2 separate regions of the Homo sapiens genome follow, and region 2 is linked to region 1. Evidence: fine-mapped expression QTL. Tissue or cell type: whole blood. Region 1 holds a variant in brackets; the other region holds the start of a gene. All regions are shown on one strand. Distances are between the middles of the regions.

Region 1 (4,390 bases):
GTATTACCTGAGATGCTCATGTATGACTCACCCTAGGAATATACGTATACTTATTTGTAAATTTTTACTTTGATATAATACTAAGTTGCAGAAAGTTACAAAAATAGTATAAGTAACTCCAGTTTACCCTTTACCCAGATTTTGCTCTATTTATTTTGTCAAGTGCTTGCTCTCTTTACTTACATGTGTATATGGATATATATGATGTATATTTTTTTCTGGCCCATTTGAGAGTAAGTTGCAGACATCATGCCTCTTTACCACTAAATACTTCAATGTGTATTTTCTAAGACACAAAAGAAATCTCTGATGTAAGAGATTACATAACTGCAGTCTAATGATCAAAACAAGGAAATTTAACATTGATACAATATTCTTATTCATATTAAGTTTATGGCCCATATTAAATTTCATAAATTGTCTCCATAATGTTTCTGAAGTCTTTTCCGTCTGTTCCAAGACCCAGTCCAGGAACACTCTTCATACTTAGTTGGCATGTCTCCTTAGTCTTTTTTAAACTGGAACAGTTCTTTAGTCCTTAACTTCCATGATCTTGATATTTTGAAAAGGCCAGTTGTAGACTGTTCCTCAGTTGGAGTTTGTCTCATGTTTCCTCATGATTAGATTCAGAGTATGCATTTTTGATAGGAATGCCACAGAAGCGATGTTGAGTCCTTCCTGGTGTACCATGTCAGAAGGTTCATAATGGGGGTAATATATCTATTTTTTTTTTTTTGAGACAGAGTTTCACTCTTGTTGCCCAGGCTGGAGTGCAATGGCATGATCTTGGCTCACTGAAACCTCCACCTCCCTGGTTCAAGAGATTCTCCTGCCTCAGCCTCCCGAGTAGCAGGGATTACAGGTGCATGTCACCATGCCTGGCTAATTTCGTACTTTTAGTAGAGATGAGGTTTCTCCATGTTGATCAGGCTGGTCTCGAACTCCTGACCTCAGGTGATCTGCCCACCTCAGCCTCCCAAAGTGCTGGGATTACAGGCATGAGCCACTGCACCCGGCAATATATCTATTTTTTAAAAGAGGACTCTTTTTGAGAATATGGGAAAGTACTCAAGTCCTAAAGGAAAATATATTTAAAAATGAAATGGGAGGGTATCTGTATTTGAGCCAGGCATCTGATCAAATTCTCCCTCAAATCCCTCAAGGCAAATTGTCACTTACTCTGGTTATTTGTAACATGGTTTATCCCGGTATTACCTCATCTATTAATTCACTTGCTTGTTCATTCATTTAGTCAAATATCCTGGGTGCCAGAAAACTGTTGCAGGTGCTAAGAATAAGCAGAAAATTCAAAACCAGAAACAAAACCCACCAATCCTCATGGACTTCTATTCTAGTAGGAGAAATACCCAATAAACAAATGAAATCGGTTATATAGTATGTTAAAAGGGAGAAGGATCACAGAGAAAACACAAAGCAGGGAAGGCATGACAGGAAGTGCCAGAGGAAGCTATAAGATTAAAAGAAGTGGTCAAGAAAGGTCTTCCTGAGAAGACAACATGGTAAACTACAGGCCCCCAAGCTGAGCCACGTGGCTTCTGGCTTCTTTTGAGGATGCAGAGTTTAAAAGGGCATTAAGAGAAAGATGATACAAATCCTAATATTGTATCATCTATAATTTGCCCATCGAGTAAGTTGTTTCACACCTCAGGGGCCAGCCAGACAAGAGAAAGGCAACGGTGATTGTTATTCATTGACATTTAGAATATTGGGTGGGATGGGATTGGGAAAAATCCCAGTACAAAGTTTCAGAGAATTAAGCTAGTGCTTGCTAAGTAGTT[C/T]GTTTATGTTGCTTACAGAGCTAGCCACTGCTTTCCCCAGCTCTGGCTCAAGGATGGGGAAATCCTCTGACAATGTCATGTGCAAGAAGGATGTTCATCTTGCCTCCAAATCCAGTATCAAAAAAGTATGAATGGGCCGGGTGTGGTGGCTCATGCCTGTAATCCCAGCAGTTTGGGAGGCTGAGGCCGGCGGATCACTTGAGGCCAGGAGTTCGAGACCAGCCTGGCCAACATGACGAAACCTCCTCTCTTATAAAAATACAAAAATTAGCCGTGTGTCTGTGGTCCCAGCTACTGAGGAGGCTAGACAGGAGAATCACTTGAACCCGAGAACGGAGGTTGCAGTGAGCGGAGATGGCGCCACTGCACTCCAGCTTGGGCGAGAGAGTGAGACTTTTATCTCAAAAAAAAAAAAAGTATGAATGGCAGAACAGAAAATATATGATAAGAAGAAACAAGAAGAATGAAGGCAGCAGTATCTTAAAGAACAATAATCATATGAAAATAGATTGCTTATGGGAGATGAATGTGTAAAGAATGGCCTTAATTTCATTTGTGAGGCCCCACCAGGAGCTAAAAAAGGAAACAGAGAAAAAAGAAAACAGGAGAGAATGAAGACAAATTTAAATGGCAGAAAGAAGCTCCATGAGAAAAATATGCCAAAGATCACATAAACAAAAAAAATTAGCCCTTTGATATTCAGGTTAGAAATATGAACTGCATTAAATGTCACAAATGGGATCATGTCACTGCAGATTGAGACTGTCCTTTGTTTGGTCTTTCTGGAATCAATGCAAGTTCAGTTCCCACTGATGAGGCAGGTAGGCACTAGACATGATTTATTTGTTTCAGAATTTATATAGAGGACAAACAAGGAAATAAAATAACGTTTCTCTTTATTTTCTCAGTTAAAAAAAAAGAAGTAAATAGATCTTCATTTTCAGGTTGCCTGGAGCAATTGCTTTCCACATCTGACACAAGAAGGAGAATTTTGCTTCATGTCACAGTGTCTCAGAACTGAATCTGTTTATGTCCACGTATCCTGGAACAGGAGCTGCATATAAGATGATACAGGGCAACAGGTCCTCTTGCTTGGTGGAAAATGATTCTTTGAATGAACTTGTTTAGCTAAGTCTCTGCCTGCCCTTTGCTGTCAGGAAGGAGAGGCAGCTAGAGATCTTCCTCCTCCTCCTTCATCCTTGCTGCTCTGCAAGCTGCCTCTTCTCCAGCACTCTCATTCCTGCCTTTGGCTGTTCCTCAATCCCATGTGGCTCTCTAGGCCTGTCATGCTCTTATATTACAAATCCATAACAACTTCCCATTTTTTGTCTTTTAAAGACTGAGAAGAATGTCATTTTCTTGTGGTTCTTCTCAACTATGTGGGTACAAAACATGGATTTCACAATTGCTTTACTCAGGGTGCTTCCCGTAACACCGCGTCTTCAGGTGGGCAGAGGGTAGTGCAATGCTGGAGTTAAATTCTAAGAATGTAGAACACTCACTCAAGATCTTCCTTTATTCCTGCCCACTTTGTCACAGGCAGAACAACGTAGGAGTGGAGATGTGATCTCCAGAGCCACACTGTCTCGTTCGAATCCTGGCCCCATTGCAAACTATCTGGGTAACTTCGGGAGGTTACTTAACCTTTCTGTACCTTAGTGCCCTCAGATGTAAAGTGAAGGTAGTAAGAGTCCATTCCCTCTTATAGGATTGTTATAAGGATTAGATGGGTTAATATTGGAAAATCCCTCAGTGTAGAGCCTAGACATAGTAAGAGCAATATTAAGTGTTTGTCAATTAAACAAAATATGTTTTGAAAGGATGGTTTTGTGGGATAGGAAGGTTTGGTTTAGGGCAGTGGTTGGCCTTTGTTCATCATAATGTGACCTTGGAGCCAAACTTCAGTGTCCAGAGGCAGTCTCTGAACTACAGCACATCCCGCAAGGATGAGTATAATAGTATATCCTACAACAAAGTTTGCTGTATTTTCTGAACAGCGTTGCAACTCATACAAGAGCTACATGGCACTCCAGAATAAATAGAAATACTAATAATCAGATAATACAGATAACTAACTCATATGGTTCATATAATCTTCCCTAAACCTCCAACTACCCTTGGAGGTCAGTGTGGCCGGTGCTGCTGATCAGCCACCGATATTCACTTCCCTTTTCTTTTATAATAGAATGCCTGAGTTTTGTCAAGCCCATGGCCACCCAGCCAGTGACTACATTTCCCGGTTTCCTGTATAGCTAGGCATAGCCATGTGACGAAATTCTGGCCAATGGAATGTGAGTAGAAATAAAGTGTGCTATTTCCAAATTGTGCCCTAAAAAGGAAAGGACATGGGCTCCCTTTGCTCCTTTGTCCCCCTTCCCACTGGCTGGCATGCAGTTATGATCAAGTGAGCAGCTACATTGGACTCAGAGATGGAAGCTATGTATTGAGGATGGCAGAGTTGCCTAACCAGCCCTGTACCATTTAGGTCTGAAATGCTTTATTGTGAGAGAAATAAGCTTTGATCTTGTCTATGCTATTTTGTTGGTTTTTTGGGAGGCTCTTTTTGTTATAGAAGCTTGGGTGATACCTAA
Region 2 (4,390 bases), 73 kb before region 1:
CCCACTTCCCTCCGCCCATCTTACTTATCCAAGGTTCAGGTCTTTAAGTTGGGACCCTTTGGTTGCTGCTATTGAGCTGGGGAAAACTAGGGGGCAGAATCAGTCAATCTAACCAGCTGTTGGGGAAAGACAGCAGCTAGAGACCTAGTCAATCACGGTAAAGAGCCACGGGGCAGTAAGTTTCATTTCAAGAGAGGTTCAGGAATGGCTTGGTCAAGAGATTCAATCTCACCCAATCAATGAACAGCCCGCAGATAGTAACAATGCCACGCAGAACAGGATGGAGATCATTCACAAGTTTACCCTCCAAAAGTCAGACACCCTTAGAACAATCTCTGGCAAGTGCCATGTAATGAACCCTATCCTCAGACCAAACGTTTTCTCCCAAAGAACTGGCACAGCCACCAGCTTTGTCTCAGGAAATTCACTCCCCCAGTAGCCCAGGGCGGGATTTCTTGCCTACCCAGTCTGCCAGTCCGAGGCCCGCGCGCTTACCATTGGCGTTCTTGCCGCAGATGAGATGCTCATAGGGCTGCAAGACGCCCCAGAGCTCGGCGTCGTTGTTGATGACCATCTCCAGGGCCTCAGCAGACACCTCCCCGCCTCCGGCCCCTCCGCCATCAGGGCTGTGGCTGGCCATCACCCTGGCCCGGATCTCCTCCACCAGGTTCTCCATGCAGGCGGTGAGGGAGATGGCTGCGTACTCGTGGATGCGCACGGAGATTCGGGTGTCCACCATCCAGCGGAAAAAGCGACCCACTGAGAAGGTGAGGCCGCAGCGCGCGGACTTGCCCCGGCGCAGCCCGTCGCCGGCGCTCATGCTGTACAGGGACAGCGCCTTGACGGCTGCCAGCGCGCAGCTCTCGGCCAGCGCCCAGCTGTGCACCAGGCGCACGGCGCTCTGCACCTCAAAGCGGGTGCACTTGGCGTGCAGCACGCTCAGGCGCTGCGCCTCGCGGGCCACGCGGATCAGTGCCCTGCGGAGCAGCCCGGCCAGGCGCCTCACCGCCTCGGCGGAGAACTGGGGCAGCCGCCGGCCGCCAGCGCCTTTGCGGAGCACCCGGGCCACGTCTCCTTCGGTCCAGGGGAACTCCTCCAGCTCGGGGAGCCGCGGACAGCGCGAGAAGAGGTCGGCCACTTCGGGGTCCTCGGGCAGCACCGTGTTCACCGTGTCCCAGCTGTTGTGGCGGCTGTTCATGGAGCCGGAGTAGCACCACCAGGCCGCCCCGCGGTGCTGCTGCGCCGAAGAGTTGAGCGCCTGCGAGTTGGACTTGGAGGACGAGAGGCTGAGCGAGCGGCACGAGTCCCCGGCCCCATACCCGGAGTCCAAGGTCAAGTCCTCCAGCGTCTTCAGAGTCGAGCTGTACGTCCCGGCCATGGGGAGCCTGCCGAGGGCGGCGTCGCCGAGCGAGGGGCACTCACAACTCCATGCCCTCTTTCCCAAGTGGGCAGAAACAAGCTCTAGGCCCTCCGGGCCACCCTCCTTCCTCTCTGCGTCGCGGGGCTCGGCGGCCGCATTGCCTGCCCGGAGGCCGCGGGAAGGTGGCCGAGATCCGTGGCCAGCAGGAGCCCCACGCTCCCGGCGTCCCGACTCGCAGCTGCCACTGGAAAGAACCCCGTCGCTACCCCCCGGCACTCCCCCTTGTCCACCTCTAATTCCCACAAGCAGAGAGTCAGTCCTCCACAGAGAAGGAATCCCGGGAGAACAGGGCGGCGGCGGCAGAAGGAGGAGGCGGCGGCGCAGGGCGCAGGGCGCAGCGCGAGTCCGGGACCAGCCGGCGAGAAAGCGCTCTGCAAACTTCTGCGCTGCGCCGGCCGGCAGCACAGCTGGGTACCCGGCTGCGTCCGACATGCAAATAACCCCGGGCGGCTTACCAATCACCGGCCGCGATGGGCGGGGCTGCACCAATGATCTCCGAGGGGGCGGTCACTATGCAGATTTCACTCTGCCTCGGGTTAAACCCCGCGGCGAAGGAGGCGGGGCTGGAGGCCGAGGGTCGGGCACGCGGCTGGGATGGGGGTGGGGATGGGGGGGGATGGGGGGGATGGGGGGGTGGGGGAAGGGCGAGCCAGCCAACTGGGAGGTGGAGGTGGAGACCGGAAAGCAGCGGTCGAAACGATAGCTCCGGAGCTCACGATTTAAAGAAAAATGCAAAGGAAAAGCTACAGGGCGCTGCCACCTTCCCGCCACCCAGGCTTTGGGCGTTCGCTGCTCGCTTTCGAGCCCTCCGCAGCCAGGCGTCCTGGGGTTGGGGCCAGGAGAATGGGGAGGGCCCCATCCAGGCGCTCCACCTCTCCTCCACCTTCCGCCAGGCCCCTCCCGCAATCCGAGATGAAACGCTGGCTGTGTTTGGAGGGAGGAGGGAGTCCCTGCCTCTCTTTCCAAGTCCGTCTGGTTCCTTTGCGCTGCCGTCTAGGCTCCAATAAGGACAGAATTTCTTAACCTGGTATCTGATCAATGGACGGGCCCCAGGAAGCCTGTGAGTGCCTCCGCCCATTTGTGGTTTCACCTGCAGTTTTCTGAGTGCCACTATGGGGAAGGGGCACCAACTTTTGTCAGATTCTCAAGAGGATCCGTGACTTCCCTGTTACCTCTGTGTGACGATACCACTTGCTGTCAGGTGGGTCCTTTTTGTCCGAGATAGACAGTGTTCTTACAGGAAGAATGAGAAGAAGGTGGCAGAGCAGTCCCTCGCCCTGGGCTGAGCTCGGAACACCTAGCTGGATGCAGGTGTTCGCCTCCTAACGCGTGCCGGTGGGCGAGCCGTATGCCCCCGCGGGACCCAGTTCCTCCGGGGTACAATGAGTGGCTGACCTCCAGGCAGCGCCAGTGCCAACCTGCCTCCGGGCGGGTGTCCCAAACGGTCCGCCAGAGCGCTGTTGGTTCAGCAGTCCCATGCCCGGTGCAGGCATGTCCCGCCGCTGCCCTGTGGCTACTCACACGCACGTGCGCAAACGGACCTGTGCCCCCTCCAGTGGAACCGCAGGCTCAAGGCGGGGATTGTGCATTCGCTCTCCCCAAGTCAGCCTCCCCCACTCCTGAATGGCTCCTTTGTGTTGCATTTTACACAGTTCTGACCTTGGGCCGTGAGTTGGATATGAACTAGAAATGTCTGGTTTGTCTCTTTCCTTCTTAAATTAATGGCCTTTACCCCCGGTGAAACTGCTTTTTATTTGGCAGTTTCGCTTAATTTTGCCTTTCCGCGGGTCTTTATTTATGCAACATCGCCGCCCGATGGTTAGAATTGGGAACAGAGTCAAAGATGGAAGTACTGTAATACCAAAGACGCAAGTCAGCAGAGATCAAACTAACAAAGGAGAATGCAGTCACACTTTACAGACGTGAGATTAGAAATTAAAGTAGGCAATGAGGTCCAACTTGTCAAAAATACAAAAGTAAATTTTATGCAATTTAAAACTTTATTGGGGAAATATAATATTAAAGGCAATGTCGCCCTCTAATGGATATATTCAAAGGAAATGAATTTCAGAAAGGTTTCCCTGTCCCCCCTTTTCTTCGTTGTGCGCACCCATCAAACCTAAAGAGAATTACTTAACTGGAAATTTACAACGGGGAACTTACTGAATGAAAGGTTATTGGAGGAATCATCTGGAGTGGGAAAAAGAGCCTATGGGATTTATATTAATATATTCAAATTACTTGATGACTTAAAGTGTAGATAATCAAACATGCCTCCAACTGAATCTGAGAATCCTGTGAATGTTGACCTGCAACATGAAGATATATTATGCAAAATTCAGCCATGGGAAATGCTTCTGAACAAACAACTGAGTTTCTTTAATAAATAAGTTTCAAGGAAAGAAAGAGATGGAGAGAAGACCTACACATTTAAAGAGACTTGAAAGACATAATAACCAATTACAAGGTGTGGAACTTATGTGTATTTTGAATTTGTTTTAAAAAGCCAGTAAACATTTGACATTATGAAACCATTAGGAACACTGCCTCGATGTTTGCTCTTAAAGAATAACTGTTTTTTTTTTTTTGATGTGGTAATGGTAGTGTGGTTATATTTATCAAATGTTCTTATCTTTTAGAGACACATGCTGAAATAAGTGTTTTGTAGCCCTCAAGAGTTGGCTTCCTCAAGGAAAAAAGGAAGACAAATCCTCATGGAAAAATCTGGTAAAGGGACTAGGAAGTTAGGAAAGACTGTAGATAGATCTCTTGTCTTTCAAATTTTCCTCAGTCTTCTAGTCAGCCTGAGGACTGGCAGTACCAAGTAAACCCAGAATGTGTCTGTGTTTGTGTTTTGTGTGATATGGGAAAAAGAATAGGAGGAAGATAGATAGAGATGAATATATATATATATATATATATATATATATATATATATATATATCCAGCCATCTTAGAATGAACCAATTC

Evidence for each region.
Region 2: it holds the start of ABTB2, and the variant in region 1 is fine-mapped to the expression of ABTB2 in whole blood (INTERVAL, PIP 0.98).

What each region holds. Positions count from the first base shown.
Region 1 is chr11:34,429,028-34,433,417 of GRCh38, forward strand. It overlaps LOC105376622 (a long non-coding RNA gene), which reads left to right and starts at 3,262. Exons shown (of 3, transcript XR_931180.3): 1 at 3,262-3,420; 2 at 3,985-4,090. It also overlaps the pseudogene CIR1P3. The variant C/T (reference allele first, on the strand shown) is at 1,800.
Region 2 is chr11:34,356,206-34,360,595 of GRCh38, forward strand. ABTB2 (ankyrin repeat and BTB domain containing 2) reads right to left here and starts at 1,805. Exons shown (of 17, transcript NM_145804.3): 1 at 496-1,805. The coding sequence starts at 1,378. RefSeq lists an enhancer at 731-840 and a silencer at 1,791-1,990.